Homo sapiens: one gene and its partners. The protein of the gene in region 1 interacts with the protein of each later gene in a biochemical or structural test. Each region holds a gene or a part of one and is shown in the gene's direction. Other genes may lie near its edges.

Region 1 (7,024 bases):
GCAGGATCGGGGGCAAATGGCTTCTCCCAACTTCCCCCTAATTCGGGTTCTGCCAGATGGTTGTCGTTTGCTGAAGTGGCTCGGCGGCATTTCCTTTTGTTTTAAACTGATCAATGAGCGAACCTGGGATGGGCTGAAAAAGTAGATTGTAGGAGGGAATAATGGGAAACCCGACTTGGGGCGCCTCCTTCCCTGCCTCCTACTGCAGTTTCTCGGCCCCCGCGAAAGGGGAGCGACAAGCGCGGGTGGGCGCGGACTCTTGAGGGGGCAGAGGCGGCTATGGCGCGTGTCGGGCAAGGTGGCACCAGAAGGCACTTTTGTGTGTGTGTGTGACAAGAGTCTCGCTCTGTCGCCCAGGCTGAAGTGCAGTGGTGCGATCTCGGCTCACTGCAACCTCTGCCTCCCAGGTTCAAGCGATTCTCCTGCCTCAGCCTCCCGAGTAACTGGGATTACAGGTGCCCGCCACCACGCCAGGCTAATTTTTGTATTTTTAGTAGAGACGGGGTTTCACCATATTGGCCATGCTGGTCTCGAACTCCTGACCTCAGGTGATCCGCCCACCTCGGCCTCCCAAAGTGCTGGGATTTACAGGCGTAAGCCACCGCGCCCGGCCAGGAACGGTTCTTAAATGCCGAGAGGGCGCATGCTAGCTCTCCTCAGCATTCCCGGTGAGCCGCTACCCACGGCCGTGCGGCTCTCGTGCCCATAGGAGGCGCTGGCGAGCTCCTGTAACCCTAAACCCCTCGGCCCCTTTCCCCCCACCCGCCCGGATTCTCTTCCCGCTCTCCCCCCTCTCTCCACACCCGCCCGGCCCCCTCTCGGGTCTCAGTTGAAAACAATGCAAACGCAGAGCGTCGTGCCTGGGGCGCAGCGGCCTCTGCAGCTCTGAGGTTCAGAGCGCGGCGCGCAGGGGCGCAGGGGCGCAGGTCCCCGGAGCGGCTGGGCATCGCCGCCAACCCCGGGACAACCAAGCCGCCGAGGACTTGGTGGAGGTGGGAGGGAGAGCGGACCGCGCAGTGTTCCTCTGGGTCCCGGGGTCAGAAGCCGGACAGTGGCGGGGGCTGGACAGTCCGAGCGCAGAGCCTCCCGGGCGAAGTCTGCGCGCAGCACTCCCGGCTGCGCTGTCGGGGACCAGGAGCCTGGGCTGCGGGCGAGCTAGCTGGCGAGCCGGGTAAGATTCGCGGGGCTGTCGCGCCCTCTAGTGGGCTCCGGGGACGCATCCCGCTTTCCCCAGCCCCGGGCGGTCGGCGCCGCTATCTCAGTGGAGCGCAGCGCTGGAACCCCGGGGGCCCGGAGCGGAGGCTAATCTGGGTCACCTTTCCCCTCCTCCGGGCAGCCAGTGGACTCCTCGCAGGCTCTGTGTGGGCCCGGGAGGCGCCGGGTGGACGAGAGGGGGCCGAGGTCTCTGGGTTTGGATTGAGAATGGGACGTCCTTGTAATTCAATGTGGGAGAAGCAGGGGAGTGTGGAGGAGGACGGGTCCCGTGCGTTCTTGGGGGGCAGGCGCCGTCTTCTGCGTTCCAGCCCCTCGCCAGCTCCCTTGCCCCGCGGGCGGCCTGTTGCTGTTTGTTTGTTTTACGACCCTGCGTTATTGTGCAACGGTAACAGTCGTTTCCAATCAGCTGCGCGGCCGTCGCGGCCCTCGCCAGGCTGGTTTATGGGGGCGGCGGTGGCGCGCGGACAGATAGGACAGCGCGGCCCGGGAACGGCGTCGAGGTCCAGGCGGTCCCCCTGCCCCGAGGGGGCGGAAATGCTGAGGTGGCGAGAGCGTGGGTTGCACAGAACCCTAGTAGCGAGTCCGGCTGAGCCTCTGCGGCCTAGCCCAGCAGCGTCGTCTTCCCGGCTCCGAAGACGTCTTCCCGAAGCCCCGCTGCCCCGGCGCACCAGCTCCCGGTGATGGGGATGATGATGGGGATGATGGGGAGATGTCCCCGAATTCTCCTGGGGTCCCGAGGAGATTTAGCCATTTTCAACAGCAGTTTTCCTATTTCTGCTTAAACCCCGCGGGCTTTCAACTGAGGTCACCACGAAAGCTAAAAGTACAACCTAAGGAAGGAAGAGACTGGAAATTAACATTTGGGGTAGTGGAGCTCAGAATTCCTCGCAGCGGCGTCTGTGTCGCAACCCGTGGACGCACGTCCTTGGACCAACACTGCCATCTGCTGGCCACTCGTAAGAACTACTGCGACCCGCTGTGAGAATGGGCTTCGCGGAGACCATTAGGAAGGTGCTTTATTTTTTATTTTTTATTTATTTTTTGCTCAGTAGGACCGTAATAGGTGACTGATTTTCTTTTGCTGTGAGGCTACAAGAATTGCTGGAAGACAACATTTTTATTTCGTGGAAATTTGTGTTGTGTTTCTCCTTGGTTGTTAATGCTTTGCATTTACATAGTGAACATCTTATTATCAGAGCTGGCCTGTGAGGAGGGTAGTGGGGGGGCATTGATGTTCCCGTTTCTGAGTGAGGAGACCTATGTCGGGGCCTTGGTGACCTCAAGCCGAATGCTCAAACTGCTACTGCTACTCCTAAGGTTGTGCCATTAGGAGTCACACCCGTTTGGTGATATTCAAAAGGATATGTCATTTTATTCTCCCGTGGTTAAATATATGGTGAGAGGAGAGCAGGCATGTTTATGAGCCCAGATTGTCCCATAAAAGGCTCCTGTTTAAAAACACTCCAGCCCCCTCCCATTACTGGAATGTCTGATGGAGCTCCGGGAGATCAAAACAACAAAACAGGCTCTGGTAGGGTGCAGAGGTCCTGGTAAACACACCCTCTGCTGGAAAACAGGGAGAAGTTTCCACCAGTGTAGACCTGCACTTGGTTTGCCTGGGCTGAAGTTAGGAGACTGCGTAGAAAAAGGAAAATGTGTAATTTTCACAGTTAGAATTAACTTAGGAGAGCTGAAATTAACTGAGCCTCGGAAATCTGAATCTTGAAGTCACCAGTGGCTTTTGGGGCTGTGAGAGAGTCTCCTGTGGTCTTTAATCATGTGAGGGTGGGGTGAAATTCAATATTCAGTGGTTCTGCAATGGGATGCACTGTGCAATTGGTGATTGAGAAGCCAACTCTCTGGCTTTAGGAGAAGAATGTCTTGCTGTTAGTCCTTCTGGAAATAGAGCCTTGCATTGCCTACTGTCTGTTTACACTACCTTTGCACATTGCCTTTGGTTATAGAGTCATGTCCAATGGCTCTTTACTTCTGTTTGCAGGGCAGGAGATGGCACCCTGTTAAAGAGAAAGGATAGTAGCTGCAAAGTCATTTGTTTCTCTGTTTCTGTGACTGTATATATTGGCTCATCTTTGAATGGTCTTTATAGCCACACCAGGCTGGAGGTAACAGGGTCATGGGAGTGGACTGCTGGTGTGGGCTGAATCAGAGTTCAGATCCATGTCTCCAGGAGGTAGGAGGTGCAGGGCAAGTCATGTGGCTTCTGGGGCATCCCTCACTTTCTTAGTTAAGGAGAAGTTGAAGGAGCCGATCTAAAATATCTTGGGAGTCTGCAGAAAAAGTCGTGAAAATCAAAGCACTTTCAATTAAACTATATAATTTAGTCCTTACAAGAATGCCACAGGGCAAGCAACCAGTCAGGCCTTGGTAGTCGTGCTTCCTAGAAGAAAAGACTGAGGTTCAGAGAGTTGGATAGAGTATCAGATTTGGGATCAGTGGCTAGTCCAATGTGATTTCCATCCTTTCTTCTGAGAGAAAGCATAAGAAGGCCAAGAGGATGGTGGAAAAGCACAAGTCACCTGCCTGAGAGTCAACAGGGCGGGGGGTCTCTTTCTCAGTTTGTTCCTCTAAGTTATGGCAAATGTTTTTTGAGCTGTGATTATTGAGAATGGGGGCTGAAGTTCAACATGTAGTTGGCATGAGGGAAGTAATTATGATTGAAGAAAAGATTTGGGTGAAATCTAGTGTTCTTCCCTGCAAAGGGGGTTGTTCTCACGGATTCTTATGGTGCCATGTTTCTCAGAATTTGTAGTTTCAGTTACTTATATTTGCACACCTGACTTTAGATGAGCTCCAGAATAGCAGTTACTAATTAAGGATGAGCATTTAGAGTAGATAAAAGTGGCAGGAACAGCAAGACTCACTCCCAGAGAGCCTCACTACAGGTCTAATAGGTGAGGAAATTCCCCATGTTTCCCATTTTTCTTCATTACCTCCCTGTGGGGCAAGCACTGCCATTATTCATGAGTAAACTGTCTGAGTTATAGATAAGTAATGACATGAAACTTCACAAACACGCTGAGCACAGTGGCTCACGCCTGTAATCCCAGCACTTTGGGAAGCCGACGTGGGTGAATCACGAGGTCAGGAGTTCGAGATCAGCCTGACCAACATGGTGAAACCCTGTCTGTACTAAAAATACAAGAAATTAGCTGGCCATGATGGTGGGCACCTGTAATACCAGCTACTCGGGAGGCTGAGACAGGAGAATCGCTTGAACTTGGGAGGCAGAGGTTGCAATGAGCTGAGATCATGCCACTGCACTCCAGCCCAGGCGGCAGTGCAAGACTCCATCTAAAAAAAGAAAAAGAAAGAAAGAAAAAAGAAAAAAAGAAAGTTCACAAACAGGCCTGATTTCTACCCAGGGAACCACTGTTATCAGAGATTGGGGTTTGGAATCTTAAGCAACAAACACATGTTTATTCTCTTCCTTCCTGATGGCTTGCTCAGAGGACCTGTTTCCATTGCCCACTTTTTTTTTGAGACAGAATCTTGCTCTGTCACCCAGGCTGGAGTGCAGTGGCGAGATCCTGGCTCACTGCAACCTCTGCCTACTGGGTTGAAGCCATTCTCCTGCCTCAGCCTCCCGAGTAGCTGGGATTATAGGTACCTGCCGCCATGCCTGGCTAATTTTTTGTATTTTTAGTAGAGATGGGGTTTCATCATGTCGGCCAGGATGGTCTTGAACTCCTGACCTCAAGTGATCTGCCCACCTCAGCCTTCCAAAGTGTTGGGATTACAGATGTGAGCCACCACGCCCGGCCTCATTGGCCACTTTATATGTCAGTAAATAATCTTTCCTGGCAGAGGGTCCACTGTATCTGGAGGCACTGAAGGAAATCTGGGAGTGTCTGGCCAGGGCAAAGCACTGCTTAGAGCTTGCACAGGAAAAGCAGTGAGCCCTTCTTTTAAGCTGGAGAAAGCTTTAAAGATGCATCTTTGGCAAGTCTTGCCAAAGAAATATGGGTTCTAAATGTGATAAAACCAAAGACATCAAGCTGGCTCTGGAGGCCTTGTTTGAAGTTTGCTGAGTGGATTGTCAGTGGGAGGCTGATATTTATATGTACAAACACACAAGCATTACTGCTAATTGTGGTAAATCAGGCTGGCCAGCCTGGCTCTGGGGCCCACTGTGCCTGCCACCGCAGCAGTGTGGAAGCCTTGCATCCCAGGCACATGTCAGGATCCTCGGAGGCCATCAGCCAGCCAGCATTGTGTGAATTGCATTTGGGTTCACAGCACTGTAATTGTGTTTCTCCTGCTGTGGTGAGCAAAGGAGGAAAATGGAAGGAGGAGGTATAATTTGCCCTAGGAAATAGTCAGGCAAGTAGGTGGCACACAGGGGTGGGATATGGCTAAAACACTGACCTTCCCTTGAGAGAGACCATATGGTGAAGTGGAGAGGGCATGGCGTTTGTATCACACGACCTTGTGTTCAAATCCTGGCTCTGTCACTGGCTGTGTGACTTTGGGTCATTTGCAAAACCTCTCTGAGCCTCAACTGCCACTTCTTAAAATCAGCTCTAAGTAATCACAGGGTTATTCTTCACAAACACAGCATGCACATGCAAACTTTGGCTTAGTAAATAATGGTTTCTCCTTCTCTTACTTTGTTTTCTACATACCCCACTCCCCTTCCTGTGAGGAGCCTTCCACCTTTTTCTCTGTGTTCTCTTCCTCTCCCATTTTCCTGGTAGCATTCAATAAAACAGAAATCTGATTTCTGCAAAGTAGGCCACCTTACGGTAGAAATACATGATTAGGCCCCACCAAAAACTTTGATTAGGCTATTATCTTCTGGATCCTGGATCCCCTCCAACCAAACCAAACCCAACTAGGGCTAAACACAGCAATATATGAATACATTGAATTTCTCTCTCACTCTTTCTTTTTTTTAAACCAGTTTACTCAGGAATCACATGCACACATATTTTAGCTTCCAAAGCCAATGATGGAACAAATTGTGTCCCATTAGGCTCACTCCATTGTATGAGTTAGCATCAGAGGAGTTCATACCAGAGTGACTTCATCTTGAATAGGGCCTAGGTAAGAAGAGGATGAGACCTGCTGGGCTGCATTCCCAGGAGGTTACACATTTGTAGTCACAGGAGAGAAAGGAGTTGGTATAGGAGTTGATAGATACAGGTCATAAAGACCCCAGTGATAAAACAGGTTGCAGGCCAGGTTTGGTGGCTCATTCCTGTAATCATAGTACTTTGGGAGGCCAAGGCAGGAAGATTGCTTGAGCCCAGGATTTCAAGATGAGCCTGGACAACATAGTGAGACCTTGTCTCTACAAACAATAATTTTAAAAACATGAGCTGGGCATGATGGTGCAGGCCTATAGTCCCAGCTACTGGTCTGAGGGGCAGTTGGGTGGCAGGCTGAGATGGGAGGATGGAGGCTGCGGTGAGCTGAGATCAGGCCACTGCACTCCAGCCTGGGTGATGGAATAAGACCCTGTCTCAAAAATAGATAAATAAATAAATAAATAAGCCAGCAAAACCAGAATGCAGTGAAGAAGCTGGCCAAAACCCACCAAAACGAAGATGGTGATGAAAGTGACCTCTGGTCATCCCTACTGCTTATTACACACTAATTATAATGCATTAGCATGTTAAAAGACACTCCCACCAGTGCCATGGCAGTTTACAAATGCCATAGCAATGACCAGAGATACTCTATATGGTCTAAAAAGGGGAGGAACCCTCAGTCCTGGGAATTACCTGTCCCTTTCAGGGAAAACTCATGAATCTTCTACCGCTTGTTGAGCGTATAATCAAGAAATAAC
Region 2 (7,024 bases), on another chromosome or scaffold:
TCCCGAGGTATTTCACTGGCAGAGGCCCTGCCTCTCTGATCATATCTGTCCTGGAGCTTCCCTGCAGGGCAGTAACAAGAACTATAACTAGGGCCTGTTGATGGCAGTGTCATCTCCCACTGGCCTGACCCCAGGCAGGGAAGCCCAAGCACATGTGTGTGTGCACATGAAGCCCCAGGTTGGCAGTGGCAGGGAGAGCCTTTCTGCTCTGACTGGTGCTTCTCACCTCTGCAGTGTGCAGTCAAAGCCCTCTTTGACTACAAGGCCCAGAGGGAGGACGAGCTGACCTTCATCAAGAGCGCCATCATCCAGAATGTGGAGAAGCAAGAGGGAGGCTGGTAAGCCAGTGGTGTGGTAGGCCCAGAGTCCAAGGGCCCCAGTGGAGCTGGGGCCCCAAAGACATGCATTTGTGATGTGCTTGTCTCCTGTGTGCACCAGCAGTGCCTGCCTCACCCTGGCTTAGGCATGGGAACCCCTACCAAAGGATACCCTCCTCATGGGAGTTCGGGGTGGTTGCTGGAGGTCAGCACCCTGTGGCTCCCACAGGTGGCGAGGGGACTACGGAGGGAAGAAGCAGCTGTGGTTCCCATCAAACTACGTGGAAGAGATGGTCAACCCCGTGGCCCTGGAGCCGGAGAGGGAGGTAAGACCAGAACCACCTGAGTAACAGCATTCCCTATTCCCAGATTCTCCTTGGCATGCCCCCATCACACAGTCCCAAGCACGCACGTGCATGCACAGACACCTGTCACATGGGCTGGTCGCACAGCCCATGTGGCCATGCACGTAGTCTCCCATATACCTGTGCTACATTTGGCAGTCACAGGTACACCCACAAGATGTATTTGTCCCATGCACACGGATATCCCCTCACACACATATGCAGTAGCCATGCTGACCATTGGTGGGCTTTGCTTCCCACAGCACTTGGACGAGAACAGCCCCCTAGGGGACTTGCTGCGGGGGGTCTTGGATGTGCCGGCTTGTCAGATTGGTGAGCTCCCATCTGTTTCTCTTGCCCACTGTTCCCTAGGGTGAGATTCTTCTTTGTATCTCTTTCCTGCTCCTAGGGAGGAAGCTGATGGCTGAACCCCAAAGTCTGCCCTCACTCCAAGCTCTCCCCATGCTCTGGACATCCCCTTGACACCCTGGGCTCCCTTTGTCACTGTCAGCTTTGACCCCTGCATGTTTACCTATGCCAGGCACTGGGGAACCCGTCAGAATCAGCAGAACAAAGTTGATGCTGCTGGTTGGCTGACATCCCCAGGCCTAATGGGTTGTACCACAGGGATGTGACAGAGGCTTGGAGATGGGGTGGAGAGGGAGACACGGCCTGAGGAAGAAGCATGAGTCAGAGCTGAGTTGGAACACTGGCTCCACCACAACCAGCAGTGACTTGTTTGAGTTGTAGCGTCGTCATCTGTCAAATGGGCCAGCAGAGTAGTCCTTCCCCTCATGGGGTGTGGGAAGGAGGAAATGGGATGAGATAGAACTCATTTGAGCCAGTGCCTGCGGTGTGGAGTGGGGTGGAGGGGGTGAGATGTCTATTCCCAGCTGTTATCTGCTCTCGCCCTCCCAGCCATCCGTCCTGAGGGCAAGAACAACCGGCTCTTCGTCTTCTCCATCAGCATGGCGTCGGTGGCCCACTGGTCCCTGGATGTTGCTGCCGACTCACAGGAGGAGCTGCAGGACTGGGTGAAAAAGATCCGTGAAGTGGCCCAGACAGCAGACGCCAGGGTGAGATTCTGCTGGAACCTTCTGGGGGGCAGTGTGTGGGCCCGTCAGGCAGCTGAGGCCTCCAGCTCCCAGCACAGGCCCCCTCAGAGCAGTGGGGCAGCCGATGGCCTATGCTAGATAGGCCACAGCCCCTGCCTTAGCTAGGGATTGAGAAGAAACAGACACATAAGATGCAATGTGGTGTGTTTAGGTTGTGTTGAGTTTGAGATACTGATGGGTCGTTGAAGTGGGTCTGCTTAGTGGGCAATTGGATACACAAGACCAGAGGTAAGAGGAGAAGTCCTGGGCTGGAAGCAGGAGTGGAGTGGGGGCTGAGGCATAGAAGGGATGAGGTGGTGTCGCATAGGAAGAGAACTTGGGATGGATTGAGAAGCTCCATATGAGAAGGCATGGGCGAGGAAAGGAGCCCAGGAAAGGCAGGTCAGACAGACTGCAGGCCACTGGTGAGGGAGAGGGTCTGCTGTGTTGAGAGCTACAGAGGTAAAGACAGGAACGATAAGAACTTGCAAGTGCCCTTTGGATTCAGCAGCAGCTAATAGCCCTTGTGAGACTTTTGAGCTGCATCAGCAGCATGGCTGGCATTAGATGGCAGTGGGCAGCAGGGAGTCTGGAATGGCAAAAGCAGAGCCTTTGTAGGGCCTGTCCTTGAGGGAGAGAACAGGTGACTGGGGTTTGAGCAGGCTCTCATGCAGATGGCTGAAAGGAGCGAGCAGCGTGTGGGAGGAGATGGAGCCCAAGCTTAGCTGGTAGGACCAGCCTTCTGGAGAAGGTGGCCTCTTCCCCTGAGCCTGGGGGAACAGAGAAGTATTCTCAAGGGTTAGGGAATTCCTACTTGGTGGCCCTTTCACCAAGTGCATTTGGTAGATGGGTCTGTAGCTGCTTTGGAGAGGGCACCCGCAAGCCAAATAGAGAAGGGATAGGGTGCTTGCCAGGCTGTCCCCTAGAAGGAAAAGGTGCTGGCATACCAGGTGGTTGAAGGACTGGATCTGGGGGTCTAGGCTGAAAAGGGAAGAGTCTGAATGTAAGAGCCACTGAGGCCGGGCGTGGTGGCTCACGCCTGTAATCCCAGCACTTTGGGAGGCCGAGATGGGCAGATCACTTGAGGTCAGGACTTCGAGACCAGCCTGGCCAATATGGTGAAACCCTGTCTCTACTGAAAATACAAAAATTAGCCGGGCATGTTGGCCGGCACCTGTAATCCCAGCTACTCGGGAGGCTGAGGCAGGAGAATCGCTTGAACCCGTGAGGTGGAGATTGCAGTGAGCCGAGATCACGCCACTGAACTCCAGCCTGGGCGACAGAGCAAGACTCTGTCTCAAAAAAAAAAAAAAAAAAAAAAAGCCACTGAAAGAAAGTCCTCCAGGAGAGGATGGGTTGGGGTGCTTGTAAGTGGGCTTCTGTAGAGATTTGGCATGGAGATTTGCCATGAAGAGTGGGTGGTTATATTTGAGTTGGGGGCGCTGAGGCAGTGAGGATCATCCTTAGGACACAGATGGAAACCAAGCCAGGGGCCTGTATCCCCAGTGCAGTCACAGGTAACACAGAAGAATCATTTTTACCCCAGCATGAGGCTGGGTAATAAATGGTCAGAAAGTGTCATTTGGGAGTGTGGCCAATTCCAGGATCCCTGGAAGGTCACTGGGAACATGGGTGGTGATGAGGAGTCTGTATCCCCCACCCCCCCTAAGAGGGTTGGAGGGCAAATGTGTCCTCTGGGACAGAAAAGAGGAAAGATGATTTCAGGATGAGGCTGAGGACAGAGCTCCCTCATTTACTGTTGGGTGTGGTGTCTGGAAGGTACAGGGGAAGGTGGGAGAGGGGCCCAGAGCACCTGCAGTGTGGGCATGCCCAAGGTTGGCAGGGGCTTCCTTCTCCTGGGCAGGGCTGTAGCCTGGGGCTACAGGGCCTTGTGTGTGTCACCAGCTCACTGAAGGGAAGATAATGGAACGGAGGAAGAAGATTGCCCTGGAGCTCTCTGAACTTGTCGTCTACTGCCGGCCTGTTCCCTTTGATGAAGAGAGTAAGGGCCAGGGCCCAGGCGGGGTGTGCATGTGCCTGGAGGGCCTGGTGGGTGCAAAAAGAGTATTTAGGTATCCCCCCAACACTTCCTGGGTGGGCGGGCTCTGTAAGTGTTTTCCCTGTTTGGCCCAGAGATTGGCACAGAACGTGCTTGCTACCGGGACATGTCATCCTTCCCGGAAACCAAGGCTGAGAAATACGTGAACAAGGCCAAAGGCAAGAAGTTCCTTCAGTACAATCGACTGCAGCTCTCCCGCATCTACCCCAAGGGCCAGCGACTGGATTCCTCCAACTACGATCCTTTGCCCATGTGGATCTGTGGCAGTCAGCTTGTGGCCCTCAACTTCCAGACCCCTGGTGAGGAAGTCCCCTGTGAGGAGGGTGAGGAGGGGCACTGTGGGGCAGCTGGACTGGAATACACCATAATCTGCCTCTTCCAGACAAGCCTATGCAGATGAACCAGGCCCTCTTCATGACGGGCAGGCACTGTGGCTACGTGCTGCAGCCAAGCACCATGCGGGATGAGGCCTTCGACCCCTTTGACAAGAGCAGCCTCCGCGGGCTGGAGCCATGTGCCATCTCTATTGAGGTGGGTGCTGCTCATCTGGGCTTCAGGGTAGGAAAGGGGCTGCTTGCCGTTGGAGTCTGTTTATGTTGAGTTCTCCAAAAGTAGGTATTTTCAGGCATCAAGGTGGTCAGGGTGGGTGGGGCCTGAGCTGAGTCTTTGAAGGGGTGAAGATAGCATGCAGTCACTGTATGCATCTAGGACGTGCAGAGCCATGGTGTGACTTGTTCTGATGACTTGTTTTGTTCTGATGAGATCTTTTTTTTCCCTAAGGGGAGGTCATTTAAAAGATTTCTGTGTTAAAATAGTAATGGATTTAACATGAAGTAGATTGCAAAACTCACATGGAAATTTTGGCTAAAGCTCAGACTTCAGATAAACTACAGGCAGCAGCTGCTCTGGACAGCTTAGGGTCCCTGATGTCGTGAGGGACTCCATGGGCAGTGTCCCGGGGGCCCAGCAGAGGGCGCGCTGCCTCCACTCCACAGATGCTGACTGAGCCTCCGCAGTGGGGAATTGGAGGGAGCAGGAAGGACAATCCCAGGCCCTTCTTTGTCTGCCTACAGGTGCTGGGGGCCCGACATCTGCCAAAGAATGGCCGAGGCATTGTGTGTCCTTTTGTGGAGATTGAGGTGGCTGGAGCTGAGTATGACAGCACCAAGCAGAAGACAGAGTTTGTGGGTCAGTCTGTCTTCCCAGTCATCCTCCTCATCCTGCTGGGGCACTGCAAGCCTCTCCCCACCAGTCATCCCATCCTCTCCCACGGTGACCTGAAGCCTTTTGTCGTTGCCTTCACAGTGGACAATGGACTCAACCCTGTATGGCCAGCCAAGCCCTTCCACTTCCAGATCAGTAACCCTGAATTTGCCTTTCTGCGCTTCGTGGTGTATGAGGAAGACATGTTTAGTGACCAGAATTTCCTGGCTCAGGCTACTTTCCCAGTAAAAGGCCTGAAGACAGGTGAGGACCATTCCTGGAGGCAGTGCCCCTGCAATCTTGCTGGCAGGGTGGGGCTGGGCCCCTTGCTCTGTCCCTCGTGGGCTGAGGGCCAGGCTTTTCCTCCTCCTAGGATACAGAGCAGTGCCTTTGAAGAACAACTACAGTGAGGACCTGGAGTTGGCCTCCCTGCTGATCAAGATTGACATTTTCCCTGCCAAGGTATCTGCAGCAGGGGTGGGCTGGCCTGGGGTAGGTGGGAGGAGAGCCAGGCAGCAGCCTCTAGAAGTGCAGAGGAGTCATTGACCCTCTTGTGCACCTGGCTTCGTTGAAGCAGGAGAATGGTGACCTCAGTCCCTTCAGTGGTACGTCCCTGCGGGAGCGGGGCTCAGATGCCTCAGGCCAGCTGTTTCATGGCCGAGCCCGGGAAGGCTCCTTTGAATCCCGCTACCAGCAGCCGTTTGAGGACTTCCGCATCTCCCAGGAGCATCTCGCAGACCATTTTGACAGTCGAGAACGAAGGTGAGGAAGATGGAGGGGTGCTAGAGCCAGGAAGGCAGTGGCTAGGTCCTCCTTCTTCAGTGTTTCTTTCTCCTGGGTAGAAAAGTTGTAATATTGTCTGGCATTGGGCTGCAAGGCCCTGCCTGCCAGTAAGGACACTCTTCCCTTCTGTCCAGGGCCCCAAGAAGGACTCGGGTCAATGGAGACAACCGCCTCTAGTTGTACCCCAGCCTCGTTGGAGAGCAGCAGGTGCTGTGCGCCTTGTAGAATGCCGCGAACTGGGTTCTTTGGAAGCAGCCCCCTGTGGCGGCCTTCCGGGTCTCGCAGCCTGAAGCCTGGATTCCAGCAGTGAATGCTAGACAGAAACCAAGCCATTAATGAGATGTTATTACTGTTTTGGGCCTCCATGCCCCAGCTCTGGATGAAGGCAAAAACTGTACTGTGTTTCGCATTAAGCACACACATCTGGCCCTGACTTCTGGAGATGGATCCTTCCATCTTGTGGGGCCAGGACCATGGCCGAAGCCCCTTGGAGAGAGAGGCTGCCTCAGCCAGTGGCACAGGAGACTCCAAGGAGCTACTGACATTCCTAAGAGTGGAGGAGGAGGAGGAGCCTTGCTGGGCCAGGGAAACAAAGTTTACATTGTCCTGTAGCTTTAAAACCACAGCTGGGCAGGGTGAGAAGCTAGATGCCCCTGCAGTTTGGCCCTGGAGCCAGGGCAGAGGAATGTAGGGCCTGCATGGAGAAGGGTTCTGCCCTGCCTGAGGAGGAGGACACAGCACAAGGGCACATTGCCCATGGCTGGGAACATGACCCAGCCTGAAAGATACAGGGGATCATGTTAAAAATAGCAGTATTATTTTTCGTCTCAATGGTATTGTAACTAAGTTATTTACTCCTCCTGCTCCTCACCCCTGTAGGGAAACCTTGGAGAGGAGAGTGGCAGGTGGGCTGCCTGCTGTGTTAAGAGGACTTAGTTTGTGATGTAAGGCACTGTCAGGAATGGGGGGCGGGCCAGGGTGGGAAGAGAAGAAATAGCAGAGCCTATTTTGGTGAGGTTTTTTGTTTTTAAGTCAAAGAAGACTCAGTATGCTTTCCCTGAGGAATGAAAAAGGGATTGAGGAGTTGCCTGACTCCTGGGTGGGTGGGGTACAGGCAGTTAGGTGCTGAATGAAGCTGCCATCCTTGCTGCAGCTTCTAACTGGTAAAAAGATCCAGGGATGGAGATGGGAAGGTTAGAAAGGCAGCCCTCACCTCTGAGGACA
Region 3 (5,870 bases), about 100 Mb from region 1:
ATTCTTTGGTTATGGTAAATGATCAATAAAGATTTAATGAATTTTGCCCTGAAGCAGGAAAGGTATTCTGGCCAAAAGATCTACAGGATACTCTGACAATAGTAAAATATTCGTTCCTTTTTCTCTGTTCTTACTTGGCTTAATAATTTTCATCTTGTTTATATTTTTACATATTTAATTTTTTATGAAATAATAGTCTTACATTCTTACATTATGTCTGTTTGTTTTGCACAGACAAACCTAAAAATCTGTAGCATTCAGTTGCCTGATTCTAGTGCTGAATCCCTGTTCCCAGTGCTCTGTGGTTCTCAAAAGTTCAAGGTCATTTTGTTTGAACGTGTTGAGCAATGGTCCATGAGCATTTGTTCCTTGCCGGTTCTCTCTGTGTCTTATCTACTATCTTCCACAATCTCTGGCTCAGCTTCTCCCTGGACATTCCTTTTCATGGACTTATCATTTTAATTTCAACCTCTCCGTCTAAATTTTCTGAGATGAACATTAGCCCTGTTTCTTTTCTGGTGGCATAATCTATGTCCTTTTCCTCTTTAATATTGTCTGGGACCTGCTGATCATTTTCCAAGTCTATTTTTCTCCACCAAAGTCAAAACTTTCAAAATGAATTAAAAACAAGAACACTAATTGTGTCCTCCACCATTAGAATTTCTTATCCAGGACTTAAGTTTCTAGAACATAAGAGATTCTTCTGCTATTTGTAAATCTCCATGAGCATCAGCAGACAAAGACAGGAGACTTTGATTCAGCAAATGCATCTTGGCATATGCATGCTAGAGGAAGCAAGGATTGCAGCCTGGCCTGACTGTTAGGACCGTGTATGGTGGCCTCTCTAATCTTTACCTTACATAGTAATTTTTTTTTCCTTGCTGAATGGGAAAATGCATACAGGTGGACATAGGAATTGAAGACGTTGTCTATGCCAATATTGCAATTTATCTTACCCACCCACCCAATCTCATTCCAGAAACAATTTGCAGCAAGACTGTGATAAGGAATAGTGCCAATATCTGAAATGTAGTTAGTCTGACACACTAAATTTTTCAAAAATAATAAATCAGTACTAACATAAAATAGTATTCAGTAGCCATTGAGTTAAATTTCACATTAAAGAAATAAAGTCAAAGTAATTTTTATTTTAGAATTGTGAAATAGATGAGAAAACTACTTTAAAAGTTTAGAATTTCTAATAGTTATTACAAGACTTTGAAGTTTATCTCTTCAGGAAGAAAGTTACTAAATAAATAGAATGTATGAGCAGTGATATTCTGAGTCTATAAAATTATTATCTATCTCTCTAATAATTCATCTCTGGGCTAGGTACAAATAAAGGCTGTGTCACTTACTCTGTCTAAGCCTCTGTTCACTCATGTGTAAAATAGGGGTAATAATTGTAAATTACTTCATAGAATTCTTGTGAGTTAAAGTATGTAAAAACGTTATTATTGTGCCTGGCACCCAGTAAGCATTCAAAAAATGTTAGCTAATTAACCTCTGATATTACCACATACTCCAGTGAGGTATGCATTCTCTGTTTTTCTTTTAAGTCTTTAAATAGAACAGTCATAAGACTTGACTTGTGCCTTTTTGGATTAATGAACATTTTTAGGACTGGTAGCTTTTAGAAATGGCTTTATGAGGTTATCTATGTCGTATCCAAAAAGTAGAGATGCTAGAAAATTTCATATTATTTTGTGCTCTGGCCTTTGTTCATAATCCAAACAAAATACAATTTCCTAAACTTTATTGTTTCTATCATAAGAAATAAAATGTAATACACTTAAATAGGTAGCAACACCAAATACTTTAATTAATATTTTATAGAATACACAACTGCATCTTTTTGTCATAGTATTAAGAGGAAATATGTGTAGCATAAGTGTCAATCTTGCTGTATTTTTATTAAAACCTTGACAATCTGAACTGCAGATAACTTTATTTAATAGAGGCATCATTGTTATTATTGCCAAACCTCTTCTCACTGCACAGTAGGATCCAGCTGCAGGAAGTTAGCTGTGACTGGGGCTGATGTCTATGAAGTACATCTAATCCATCTCATCAAGTTTATAGAGGACTTGAAGTGTAGCCAAGAAAATTAATGAGTGGCATAATTGAGCAGACTCAGCTGTGGAGTGATCATGTTTCTTTCCACAGTATTTCTGCACTTGAGTGTATTGCATCAAGTATAAATATTTGTTAAATGTGTGAATAAATGAATGAATGAAAGAAAGCGACAAACAGAAAAACGAATTTTATATTGGTAGTTCCAAAATACTTAAGGTGAAATTCTAAAATAGTCAGATAAATAAAATAACAATTGCGTGGTGAGTCTTTCCATTTAAGTACTGTTCCTTATTCAGAGACAGAATGCTTCCAAATTGTTGGCATTAAAATGTCTGTGCTTTCATGAAATGATGATTTTTTTTTTTTTTTTTTTTTGGTGGGAGAGTGTTTTCATAATGCGTGCTCTAGGAAAAATTAAAATATGTGTCTTTCTTGGGCCCCAAGATTCTTTTCTAAAACGTTACTTGTTTATAAAAGCCAGTCATAGACATTCGTTGATTTTTAAAAGTGGCTTACTCTTATTCCCTTTCAGGTCCTTCAGTTGAGACCAAAGACCGGTGTCAGGGGATTGCACAAATCACTCACCGACGTGGCCCTGGAGCACCATGAGGAGTGTGACTGTGTGTGCAGAGGGAGCACAGGAGGATAGCCGCATCACCACCAGCAGCTCTTGCCCAGAGCTGTGCAGTGCAGTGGCTGATTCTATTAGAGAACGTATGCGTTATCTCCATCCTTAATCTCAGTTGTTTGCTTCAAGGACCTTTCATCTTCAGGATTTACAGTGCATTCTGAAAGAGGAGACATCAAACAGAATTAGGAGTTGTGCAACAGCTCTTTTGAGAGGAGGCCTAAAGGACAGGAGAAAAGGTCTTCAATCGTGGAAAGAAAATTAAATGTTGTATTAAATAGATCACCAGCTAGTTTCAGAGTTACCATGTACGTATTCCACTAGCTGGGTTCTGTATTTCAGTTCTTTCGATACGGCTTAGGGTAATGTCAGTACAGGAAAAAAACTGTGCAAGTGAGCACCTGATTCCGTTGCCTTGCTTAACTCTAAAGCTCCATGTCCTGGGCCTAAAATCGTATAAAATCTGGATTTTTTTTTTTTTTTTTGCTCATATTCACATATGTAAACCAGAACATTCTATGTACTACAAACCTGGTTTTTAAAAAGGAACTATGTTGCTATGAATTAAACTTGTGTCGTGCTGATAGGACAGACTGGATTTTTCATATTTCTTATTAAAATTTCTGCCATTTAGAAGAAGAGAACTACATTCATGGTTTGGAAGAGATAAACCTGAAAAGAAGAGTGGCCTTATCTTCACTTTATCGATAAGTCAGTTTATTTGTTTCATTGTGTACATTTTTATATTCTCCTTTTGACATTATAACTGTTGGCTTTTCTAATCTTGTTAAATATATCTATTTTTACCAAAGGTATTTAATATTCTTTTTTATGACAACTTAGATCAACTATTTTTAGCTTGGTAAATTTTTCTAAACACAATTGTTATAGCCAGAGGAACAAAGATGATATAAAATATTGTTGCTCTGACAAAAATACATGTATTTCATTCTCGTATGGTGCTAGAGTTAGATTAATCTGCATTTTAAAAAACTGAATTGGAATAGAATTGGTAAGTTGCAAAGACTTTTTGAAAATAATTAAATTATCATATCTTCCATTCCTGTTATTGGAGATGAAAATAAAAAGCAACTTATGAAAGTAGACATTCAGATCCAGCCATTACTAACCTATTCCTTTTTTGGGGAAATCTGAGCCTAGCTCAGAAAAACATAAAGCACCTTGAAAAAGACTTGGCAGCTTCCTGATAAAGCGTGCTGTGCTGTGCAGTAGGAACACATCCTATTTATTGTGATGTTGTGGTTTTATTATCTTAAACTCTGTTCCATACACTTGTATAAATACATGGATATTTTTATGTACAGAAGTATGTCTCTTAACCAGTTCACTTATTGTACTCTGGCAATTTAAAAGAAAATCAGTAAAATATTTTGCTTGTAAAATGCTTAATATCGTGCCTAGGTTATGTGGTGACTATTTGAATCAAAAATGTATTGAATCATCAAATAAAAGAATGTGGCTATTTTGGGGAGAAAATTATGTGTGTGTGTGCTCAAGATTTATTTCTTGGACTCTGAGAAAATGAAAGATAAAATTTTCTGTTATGATTTTCATTTAGCAAAAGCATATGTCAATTCAAAAGACAAAAAAAGGGAAGATACCTGTGAGCCTTCTCTGCCTCTTGTTTCCAATGCCTTTGAGCAATGGTTTTATTTTTCTTACTGGTCTTAATACAGATTTCTGGTAATTTAAGTTTCACCTGACTTGAAAGTTGTATGGTTTATGAAATGCTTGGTGATAGGTGGTATGGTAGTATGAAACTGGAAAAAAACTTGCAGGTTTCCACTCATGTCTTCATTGTCACTGGCAACTACTAAATGGGGTGAGCATAAATTGATTTGGTGCATGGATTATTGTACATTGCACACTTCAAGATATGGTTCCTCAGTTCCAGACATAGATTCCTATTCAGGGCTGGTATCTTCAGCATCCTTTCCTCAGCCTTTCAACTTGGCAGAGATGTCTAGTGTCCAGGGCCTTCTGTCTTCAGACTGCTCTTCAGGCAAGCACCCTTTTCCTGTGCTTTGACACCTGCAGTTCTGCCCTGCCTCCAACTATGTGGAAAACAAAGAAACAAAATGAGCCTATGTGTTCTGTCTTACTTCCTTACCTTTTCCTGGTTTTGTCCTATCCATATAGAGGCCAACTAGATATATGGAATATGCAACGTAGTAAGTAGTTGGCAGTTTACAACTTTCATTAGTATAGTAAAGACTACTAAGTCTTAGTAAATAGCCTGTTTAACTGTGTTTAATCCATTGTTTCCCATCTTTGAACGAAATATATTTTCCCTTTTTTAATATTTATTTTTTGTTTACTTATAAAATCTTGACAGCCAGAAGAGATCATAAGGGTAGCAGTCCTCAGTTGCCAGTCGGTGAGTGGTTACCATGTGAGGACTAACCACTTTATAATCACTTACTCATAGATCGTCCTGTGTATTTTACTAAACACACACACACACACACACACACATAAATAGCACATGACCCTAATTTCTGAGAAGTACAGTAAGTATTGACTGTATTGACCACACACCGTTTTGTGTATGATATCTGTTTCAAGCCTTTGTCCTTGAGACATGGGCTGTTTTGCCCAGTGATGTTTACTAAAATAAAAGCAAGCCTTAAATGTCATGAGGCAGGTGTTCATGTCTACATTTTTCATTTCTGCATCCCATTTCTACATTCCCTCCCTCATCTAATAATTCTCATGTGCACTTGGTAAAGGTGCAAAGACCAAAGTAATGAGAAGCTACACTGTGAGAAACATCCTGGCTATGACTTGGTTACCCTCGGTGCATCCCTGTCTCCAGGTGCATTGACCATGGTTTGGTTACCCTCGGTGCATCCCTGTCTCCAGGTGCATTGACCGTGGTTTGGTTACCCTCGGTGCATCCCTGTCTCCAGGTGCATTGACCGTGGTTTGGTCCCTCGGTGCATCCCTGTCTCCAGGTGCATTGACCATCGTTTGGTTACCCTCGGTGCATCCCTGTCTCCAGGTGCATTGACTATGGTTTGGTTACCCTCGGTGTATCCCTGTCTCCAGGTGCATTGACCGTGGTTTGGTTACCCTCGGTGCATCCCTGTCTCCAGGCGCATTGAACGTGGTTTGGTTACCCTCGGTGCATCCCTGTCTCCAGGTG
Region 4 (7,822 bases), on another chromosome or scaffold:
GTGTGTGTGCGCGCGCGCGCAGAGCCTGCAGTAATAACCATCACTGTGATGACCAACATCTGTGGGGTGCTCACTCCAGGCTTTATCACTTCAGGTGAATTAACTCATTTAACCCAGTGAGGTAGGGACTATTGTCCCTACGACTTACAGAGGAGGAACGTGAGGCTCAGGAAGGTTAAGGAATTTGCTTAAGGTCACAGAGTTAGTAGATGGTAGGGCAGGGCTTTGAACCCAGGTGGTCTTTGACGGGAAGCCTAGTCCCTTGCCCTCTCTCAGCCTCACTTTCCTCATCTGTACAATGGGCATATACGATGGCAATGCCTTCTCCCTGGGCGACTGTGAGGGTGAGGCAGGCAGAGGGGAAGGAAGTGCTTTGTGGACAGCCAAAGGCCCTGTAGACAGGGAGGCAGGGGATGGGGCAGCAAGGGGCATGGGGGAGCTGATGAGGGCCACGCGGAGTGGGGTAGGGCTTGGAGTTTCAGACCATTTGTGGCATGGTCTTGGACGGTCTCCAGCTTAGAGCCTCACTTCCTCTCCATCAAGTATGGAGAAGCAGAGCTGCCTGGCCCAGGTGTTGCTGGCCCCTCTCAGTGGCGGGGAGGCTCCCAGTGATCATCGCTCTCACCTTTCTGGACTTGAGGGCGTGAGTTTGCCCCCGGGATGGAACCCAACTCCTTCCTTGGTATTTCTTCACCCCAGCCAGTGTCCTGGACCCCCACGCCCAGGGTGTAAGATGCTCTTCATGGATGAGGGCTTGGATAGCTCTGAGCACACAGTCTAAAAAGCCCCCAACCTTGGGCAGCACCCCCATCCCCCACGGCTGTGGCCACTCTTTTTCCCTTTGGCTCAGATCTGTCCTGGAGTGGAGGGTGGAGAGTTACGGGGGTGTGGGCGCCCCCATCCCTAGCTCTGCTGGAGAACCTTATTTCCCAGTGGCCTGAACGCGAAGATGGGCGGGGGCCTTCCCAGTTCTCTCATTCAAGTGCTCCTCAGACCCAGCCCTGATGAAGTTCCGAGGTCAGATGAGACCACGTGCATTCAGGGTGGTGTGGCTTCAGACCCTTCCCAGTTCTGATACCTCCAGAAGGGGTGCCCTTCAGGGGCCCTGTGCTTCCAAGCTTAGAGGCTCATGCTACAAGCCCCTCCCCAACTCTTTCCACCCTTTAGGAAGGGCCTGGCATCTCTGCAATAACTGGTCAGGACTCAGAAAGAGAAATTGGCAGGATTTTAATCATTTATTCATTCCTTCAGCGAGCGGCACTTCCTGAGCAGCCACTGTATGCTAGGAGCTGGCAGGAGGCCCTTGAACACTCTGGACTCAGTCTAGTGCTAGATTGATGATCAGGCCATGACGATGCCAGGTGTGCATGCTGTGGAGCCTGGAACAAGTGCCAAGCCTGGTGGGCCTTCTGGAGGAGGTGCCTGCTACACCCAGCCTGGCAGGAGGCAGACGATCAGGTGTTATTAAAAAAAAATTTTTAGGCTGGGTGTGGTGGTTCATGCCTGTAATCCCAGCACTTCGGGAGGCTGAGTGGGGCAGATCACTTGAGGTCAGGAGATCGAGAGCACCCTGGTCAACATGGTGAAACCGTCTCTACTAAAAATACAAAAATTAGCTGGGCATGGTGGCAGGCGCCTGTGGTCTCAGCTACTCGGGAGGCTGAGGCAGGAGAATCGCTTGAACCTGGGAGGCAGAGGTTGCAGTGAGAAGAGATCGCACCACGGCACTCCAGCCTCGGCGACAGACCGAGACCCCGTCTCTGAGATGGCTCACTGCAGTCTTGAACTCCTGGGCTCAGGGGATTCTCCCTCCTGACTCAGCCTCCTGAGTAGCTGGGGCCACACTCAGATATATATATATATATATATATATATATATATATATATATATATATATATTTTTTTTTTTTTTTTTTTTTTTTTTTGGTAATTTTTTTTAAGAGATGGGATCTCGCTATGTTGCTGAGGCTGGTCTCGAACTCCTGGCTGCACATGATCCTCTGGCCTCAGCCTCCCAAATTGCTGGGAATACAGGGGTGAGCCACCGTGCCTGGGGAGGTGTTCTTTACAGACTGTTCCTCTGCACAGAGAAGGTACAAGAAAGGAGCCCTTAGCACAACATTCAGGCCCAGGTGTCACGCAGGTGTCACGTAGCATTCAGGCCCAGGTGTCTGCTGGGCCCTCTTCTGCCACTTCTAACCCATGTACTGGCACCTGCACTGCAATGATTTGGGTCTATCTCACTGAGAGCATGGGAAGTCCCTGAGTGCCGAGGCTGGGACTCCTTCCTCATTCCATTTCTCAGCGCTTCACACAGGGTCTGCAAACAGTAGGCGTTCTACGATGCTGCTCTGAGTAGCCTTCCCTCTCCCTCAACTTGTACCTAAGTCAGAGTTCATATGGGTCCATCACTTTTTAGCTGGCAGAGCAGGTTCCCACATATTAATGCATGTGGCGCTCACCAAAGCGCTGTGTCAAAAGTGTCATCATTGTCATCAGCATCACCTGCCAGAAAATTGCACAGCACGGTGGTCTCAGCATGTGGGCTCTGTAGCTGGACTGCTCAGATTCAAGTCCTGGCCTTACCACTTACGGGCTGTGTGACCTTGAACAAGTGTATTGGCCTCTCTGTGCTTCCATTTCCCCATCTGTAAGATAGGAATAACACATCTCACAGGAGCATGGAGAGGCTACAGGTAGAGTAAGAAAAACACTAGCTACCACATAGTCAGCTCACTAATCATGGTAGTTGTTACCATTCTATTTATAGAAGACACAGAAGGTCAAGGTCAAATGACCCAGCTGTCCGGTGGAAGAGGGTTTTTATCTCTGAGTCGTTAGACTTCAAATCTAGTGTTTGGGGGTTATCTCCTCGTCCCGCTGCCCCATCTCCCTTGTCACCCTGTCTCCTAATTTATCTGTTTATACATCTGGTTGTCCTTCTCAATGGGGCTCTTCAAAGGCAGGGGCCTGCATTAGGCTGGTTCACACCTGTCTCCCCAGTGCCTGGAGCAGTGCGGGGCCACCAGTGAACTTGAAGGCTGCATGGAAGGTTCCAGGCGCTTGCTTCCTGCTAAGGTGTTTTGCTGAGCGCCTCCACATGGAGGACCTCATGGGAGCCTCCAGACCACTCCAGGAGCAGGGTAAAAATTCTCTACAACTGCACTGAGGTACAACAAACTGCACACATTTTGTTGTGATGTACGTATACACCCATAAGCCCATCACCACAATCAAAAATGACAAACATTTCCATCACCACTAAAATTTTGCCATGCCTCTCTGTTCTCTCTCACTCCTTCCCATTATAGATTTATTTTTATTTCTTTAGAGATAGGGTCTTGCTCTGTTGCCCAGGCTGGAGTGCAGTGGCACAGTCACAACTCACTGCAGCCTCAAACTCCTGGGCTCAAAACGATCCACAGTCTCCTGAGTAGCTGGGACTACAGGAGCTTGTTACCACACCCAGCTCCAGTTTATAAATTCATCTCCAGTTTATAAAGGAGGAAACCGAGGTACTGAGAGGTTAAAAAACCTTCCTGCAGACACTTGTCCAGCAAGTGGCCACTCCAGGATTTGGACCAAGGTGATGTGTCTTCAGGCTGTGTCTCTGCCACTGTGCCACGCTGCTGGGTGGTAGGCAGCAGTGGGTGGGTGCCTGCAGTGGTCTGTAAAGACCACCTGAGATGTCCTTCCTCCTCTGTTCCACCCTGTCCAGGTCCAAGAAGACAGTCTATGAAGAGAGAGCAGGTGTGACTCTCTCAGTGTGCTCCTCTGTGAGAAGCAGGCTGACATCCCAAAGGGAAGGGCGGATAACAGAGACAGTGCAAGCGGAGGAGATGAGGGTGCCTCAAAGCCGGGAGGCTGGGTGATGCAGGAGCCTGCGTGTCCCGAGGGGGGTGCTGGGCCCAGTGTGAGTACGTGTGACTGTGACTGAGACAGTGTGACTGCTGAAGGCAGGGACACAGCAGCTCCCTGACTGGGGGCAGAAGGCGTTAACTGTGTGAAGGCTGGTTGTGGGTGGGTGGGCTCTGGGCCTCGAACCCGGGGGCTGAGGGAGATAGTAAACAGCAGGGTGACTGACGGGAAGATCATGTTGGTAGCCCTGCGAAGATGCTGCAGGGCTGTGGGGGTTTGTGTGACTTTGCAGTTCAACAAATTCAAATTCAGCCAACGCTGGCAGGGCCTGTTGTGCCAGGCAACCAGCTAGGAGGAGGAGACTCGGACCCAGCTTGCAGCTGAAGGGCGCTGGCTGCCGGGTTCTGTGGGTTCACCTTGCGGTGTCTTCCCTTGCTAACACTGAGTCCTTACAATAGCCCCATCTCCAGGTTGAGGCTAGATGGAGGGGACAGAGGGAAGTGACTTGCCCAAGGTGACCCAAGCTCCCGAGTGCCAGGGCAGGATCTGAATTCAGGCTCTCAGACTGCAGAGCCTGAGTCCCTCCCTGCCATGCCTGTGCCAGGGTGGAAATGTCTGGTCCTGGAGGGGAGCGTGGACTCCTGGCCTTGGCTCTGGAGACATCCCCCTAGACCACGTGGGCTCCTAACCTGTCCATGGTCACTGTGCTGAGGGGCGGGACGGTGGGTCACCCCTAGTTCTTTTTTCCCCAGGGCCAGATTCATGGACTGAAGGGTTGCTCGGCTCTCAGAGACCCCCTAAGCGCCCCGCCCTGGCCCCAAGCCCTCCCCCAGCTCCCGCGTCCCCCCCCTCCTGGCGCTGACTCCGGGCCAGAAGAGGAAAGGCTGTCTCCACCCACCTCTCGCACTCTCCCTTCTCCTTTATAAAGGCCGGAACAGCTGAAAGGGTGGCAACTTCTCCTCCTGCAGCCGGGAGCGGCCTGCCTGCCTCCCTGCGCACCCGCAGCCTCCCCCGCTGCCTCCCTAGGGCTCCCCTCCGGCCGCCAGCGCCCATTTTTCATTCCCTAGATAGAGATACTTTGCGCGCACACACATACATACGCGCGCAAAAAGGAAAAAAAAAAAAAAAAGCCCACCCTCCAGCCTCGCTGCAAAGAGAAAACCGGAGCAGCCGCAGCTCGCAGCTCGCAGCTCGCAGCCCGCAGCCCGCAGAGGACGCCCAGAGCGGCGAGCGGGCGGGCAGACGGACCGACGGACTCGCGCCGCGTCCACCTGTCGGCCGGGCCCAGCCGAGCGCGCAGCGGGCACGCCGCGCGCGCGGAGCAGCCGTGCCCGCCGCCCGGGCCCCGCGCCAGGGCGCACACGCTCCCGCCCCCCTACCCGGCCCGGGCGGGAGTTTGCACCTCTCCCTGCCCGGGTGCTCGAGCTGCCGTTGCAAAGCCAACTTTGGAAAAAGTTTTTTGGGGGAGACTTGGGCCTTGAGGTGCCCAGCTCCGCGCTTTCCGATTTTGGGGGCCTTTCCAGAAAATGTTGCAAAAAAGCTAAGCCGGCGGGCAGAGGAAAACGCCTGTAGCCGGCGAGTGAAGACGAACCATCGACTGCCGTGTTCCTTTTCCTCTTGGAGGTTGGAGTCCCCTGGGCGCCCCCACACGGCTAGACGCCTCGGCTGGTTCGCGACGCAGCCCCCCGGCCGTGGATGCTCACTCGGGCTCGGGATCCGCCCAGGTAGCGGCCTCGGACCCAGGTCCTGCGCCCAGGTCCTCCCCTGCCCCCCAGCGACGGAGCCGGGGCCGGGGGCGGCGGCGCCCGGGGGCCATGCGGGTGAGCCGCGGCTGCAGAGGCCTGAGCGCCTGATCGCCGCGGACCCGAGCCGAGCCCACCCCCCTCCCCAGCCCCCCACCCTGGCCGCGGGGGCGGCGCGCTCGATCTACGCGTCCGGGGCCCCGCGGGGCCGGGCCCGGAGTCGGCATGAATCGCTGCTGGGCGCTCTTCCTGTCTCTCTGCTGCTACCTGCGTCTGGTCAGCGCCGAGGTGAGTTGCCACGGCGGCTGGGGCTGGTTCTTCATTCATTACCTTCGCCCCCCCCTTCTGACCGCCCCCTCCTCTCCCTGCAGTGAACTTTGGACCCTTGCAGCCCGCGAGCCTGACGCCGGGCGCTGGGTGACCTCTTCGGGCTGGGAGCGAGGTCCGGGGGTGACAGGCTCTAAGGGAAGGCAACAGCGGTGGCTTTCTTTCCAACCGGCGGGCGAATCTGGCTCCCTAAGCCGTTCCGTGTCGGGGGAGGGTGTGTGTGGCCCTGTCCCCCACCCTTTGGGAACCCGAGAACAAGCCCCTTCCCGGCCGGGGGAGAGGGGGTGGGGTGGTGCCCAGGGTGCAGAAGGCAGCGCGTCCTCCCGAGCCCACTTCGGCGCCAGCCTCGGCTTAGGCTCTGTCCTGCCATCGGCTTGCCCAGGAGGTGCAAGCTTGCGCACCGGTGCCATCCACGCCGACCTTTGACGGGGCTCGGGTCCCACCCTGGCTCCCGGTCGGGGTCCGGGTGGACGCCCTCCGGCACGCGCAGGGCATGCCCGGCCCCAGAGCACGGTCTGGAAGCAGCTTGTGTCTCGGGCGCGGGGTTTGGGGTGGGAGTAACAGGGAGAGAGAGAGAGAGAGAGAGAAAGAGAGAGAGAGAGAGAGAGACGGAGAGAGAGACGGAGAGAGAGAGGGAGAGAAAGATAGAGACGCAGGTAGGTTTCGGGCACTCGGGTAGGGGGAGGACTAGGGGCTCTGAAGGAATCCAGCCCCCGGGGCGCTGTGTGCCTGAGGCCTTGCCGTACCTGTGCCCGCGCCCTGCAGGAGGAAGCACCTCTCTCCCCCGCATGCAGGGTGCGGAGCGCGCCGCCTGCAAAAGCCTAGCTGCACGGGAGATGGGGTATAAAAACATCTGAGGGAGCGCTGGGGTCGGAGCCGTCCCCACCCCTCCCAGCCTCACGTAGCCGTGAGTTGGCAAGTCTACCCGGAATCCAGGTGGGAAAGGGGGCGGGGCAGGACGACGCGCGCGGTGGAGGGGAGGAGAGGGCAGCCGGGAGCGCGGCGTGACTGGGTACCGTCCCACCTCCGCCCGGCTGCGGCCGGGAGTCCGCACCTCGCCCGCACCTCGCCGGCTCCCGGGGAGGGTCGGCCCCTGCGGCCTCCAGCCAGGCGCAGGAAGGAGGCAGCGGCGGCGAAGGGGTTAAGGCGGAGGGCTCGGAGGCCGCGGCCCGGCCTTGGGCTGCCGCCAGCGCAGGTTGTTTTGACCACGGAGGAGCCGTCGCCGTCTCCTTTTGTTCTCGGGGCTCCTCGAGGGCCGCAGGCCGCCCGCCCGGGGGCCCCGCCCTTCCGCGGCCGCCCCCCGCGGCCCGCACCCGGGAGGGAGGACGCGGGGCTCGGCCGGGCCGCCTTCAGGCCCCTCCCGACGCCCCCTCTCCGCCTCTCCCGCAGCCCCCCGGGCCGCGGCCAGCTGTTGGGGAGGGGGTGGCCGGCCGGCCCCAGCTGCCGCCTCGCCTCGCCGTGGGACCTGGGGGCTGGGCCCGGTGCCAGGGCGTCCTGGGAACGGCGGCGCCCCGTGGCTGCTCTCCGCAGCCCACCCCGCCCGGGCCCCCGACTCGCTCACTCACCCCACGCATGCACACTCCTGGCCGGAGGCGATGCTGCGCTCCGGCGGGCGGGCGCGCAGAGCGACGGGCACGCACTACCGCGGCCAGGTCGCGCGCCCGCCTCTGCCACGCCCGTGCACACGCGGGACACACGCGCGCGCACCGCACACAAACGCACGCACGGCCCCTGCACGCGCGGCCTGAGCACACGTGCGCGCACACCCACGCACGTACACAGGCACGCACGGGCCCCCGTGCACCCAGCGCCTGGTGCTCGCCCCCGCGCAACAGGTGGGCCCTCCGTGGGCCCTGGCACCTCACCACCTCTGTAGCGGCCCCATTTCCTTCCTG

Evidence for each region.
Region 2: the proteins of PDGFRA (region 1) and PLCG1 form a complex in vitro, tested with the Homo sapiens proteins (2 studies listed by BioGRID, with this or other methods).
Region 3: the proteins of PDGFRA (region 1) and PDGFC form a complex in vitro, tested with the Homo sapiens proteins (2 studies listed by BioGRID and IntAct, with this or other methods).
Region 4: the proteins of PDGFRA (region 1) and PDGFB form a complex in vitro, tested with the Homo sapiens proteins (3 studies listed by BioGRID).

The regions. Positions count from the first base shown.
Region 1 is NC_000004.12:54,232,273-54,239,296, forward strand, and holds part of PDGFRA (platelet-derived growth factor receptor alpha isoform 1 precursor), read left to right. Parts: intron 1-827; exon of another isoform or gene 828-1,171; intron 1,172-1,687; exon of another isoform or gene 1,688-2,199; coding exon of another isoform or gene 2,200-2,226; intron 2,227-7,024. UniProt on the Homo sapiens protein: Tyrosine-protein kinase that acts as a cell-surface receptor for PDGFA, PDGFB and PDGFC and plays an essential role in the regulation of embryonic development, cell proliferation, survival and chemotaxis.
Region 2 is NC_000020.11:41,168,533-41,175,556, forward strand, and holds part of PLCG1 (1-phosphatidylinositol 4,5-bisphosphate phosphodiesterase gamma-1), read left to right. Parts: intron 1-234; coding exon 235-338; intron 339-490; exon of another isoform or gene 491-546; coding exon 547-643; intron 644-924; coding exon 925-994; intron 995-1,579; coding exon 1,580-1,737; intron 1,738-3,660; coding exon 3,661-3,757; intron 3,758-3,888; coding exon 3,889-4,113; intron 4,114-4,196; coding exon 4,197-4,345; intron 4,346-4,887; coding exon 4,888-5,002; coding exon of another isoform or gene 5,003-5,119; coding exon 5,120-5,281; intron 5,282-5,390; coding exon 5,391-5,479; intron 5,480-5,591; coding exon 5,592-5,779; intron 5,780-5,934; coding exon 5,935-5,977; 3' UTR 5,978-7,024. UniProt on the Homo sapiens protein: Mediates the production of the second messenger molecules diacylglycerol (DAG) and inositol 1,4,5-trisphosphate (IP3). Plays an important role in the regulation of intracellular signaling cascades.
Region 3 is NC_000004.12:156,759,945-156,765,814, reverse strand, and holds the end of PDGFC (platelet-derived growth factor C precursor), read left to right. Parts: intron 1-2,608; coding exon 2,609-2,725; 3' UTR 2,726-5,361; downstream 5,362-5,870. UniProt on the Homo sapiens protein: Growth factor that plays an essential role in the regulation of embryonic development, cell proliferation, cell migration, survival and chemotaxis. Potent mitogen and chemoattractant for cells of mesenchymal origin.
Region 4 is NC_000022.11:39,241,967-39,249,788, reverse strand, and holds the start of PDGFB (platelet-derived growth factor subunit B isoform 1 preproprotein), read left to right. Parts: upstream 1-4,806; 5' UTR 4,807-5,825; coding exon 5,826-5,888; exon of another isoform or gene 5,889-6,863; intron 6,864-7,822. UniProt on the Homo sapiens protein: Growth factor that plays an essential role in the regulation of embryonic development, cell proliferation, cell migration, survival and chemotaxis. Potent mitogen for cells of mesenchymal origin.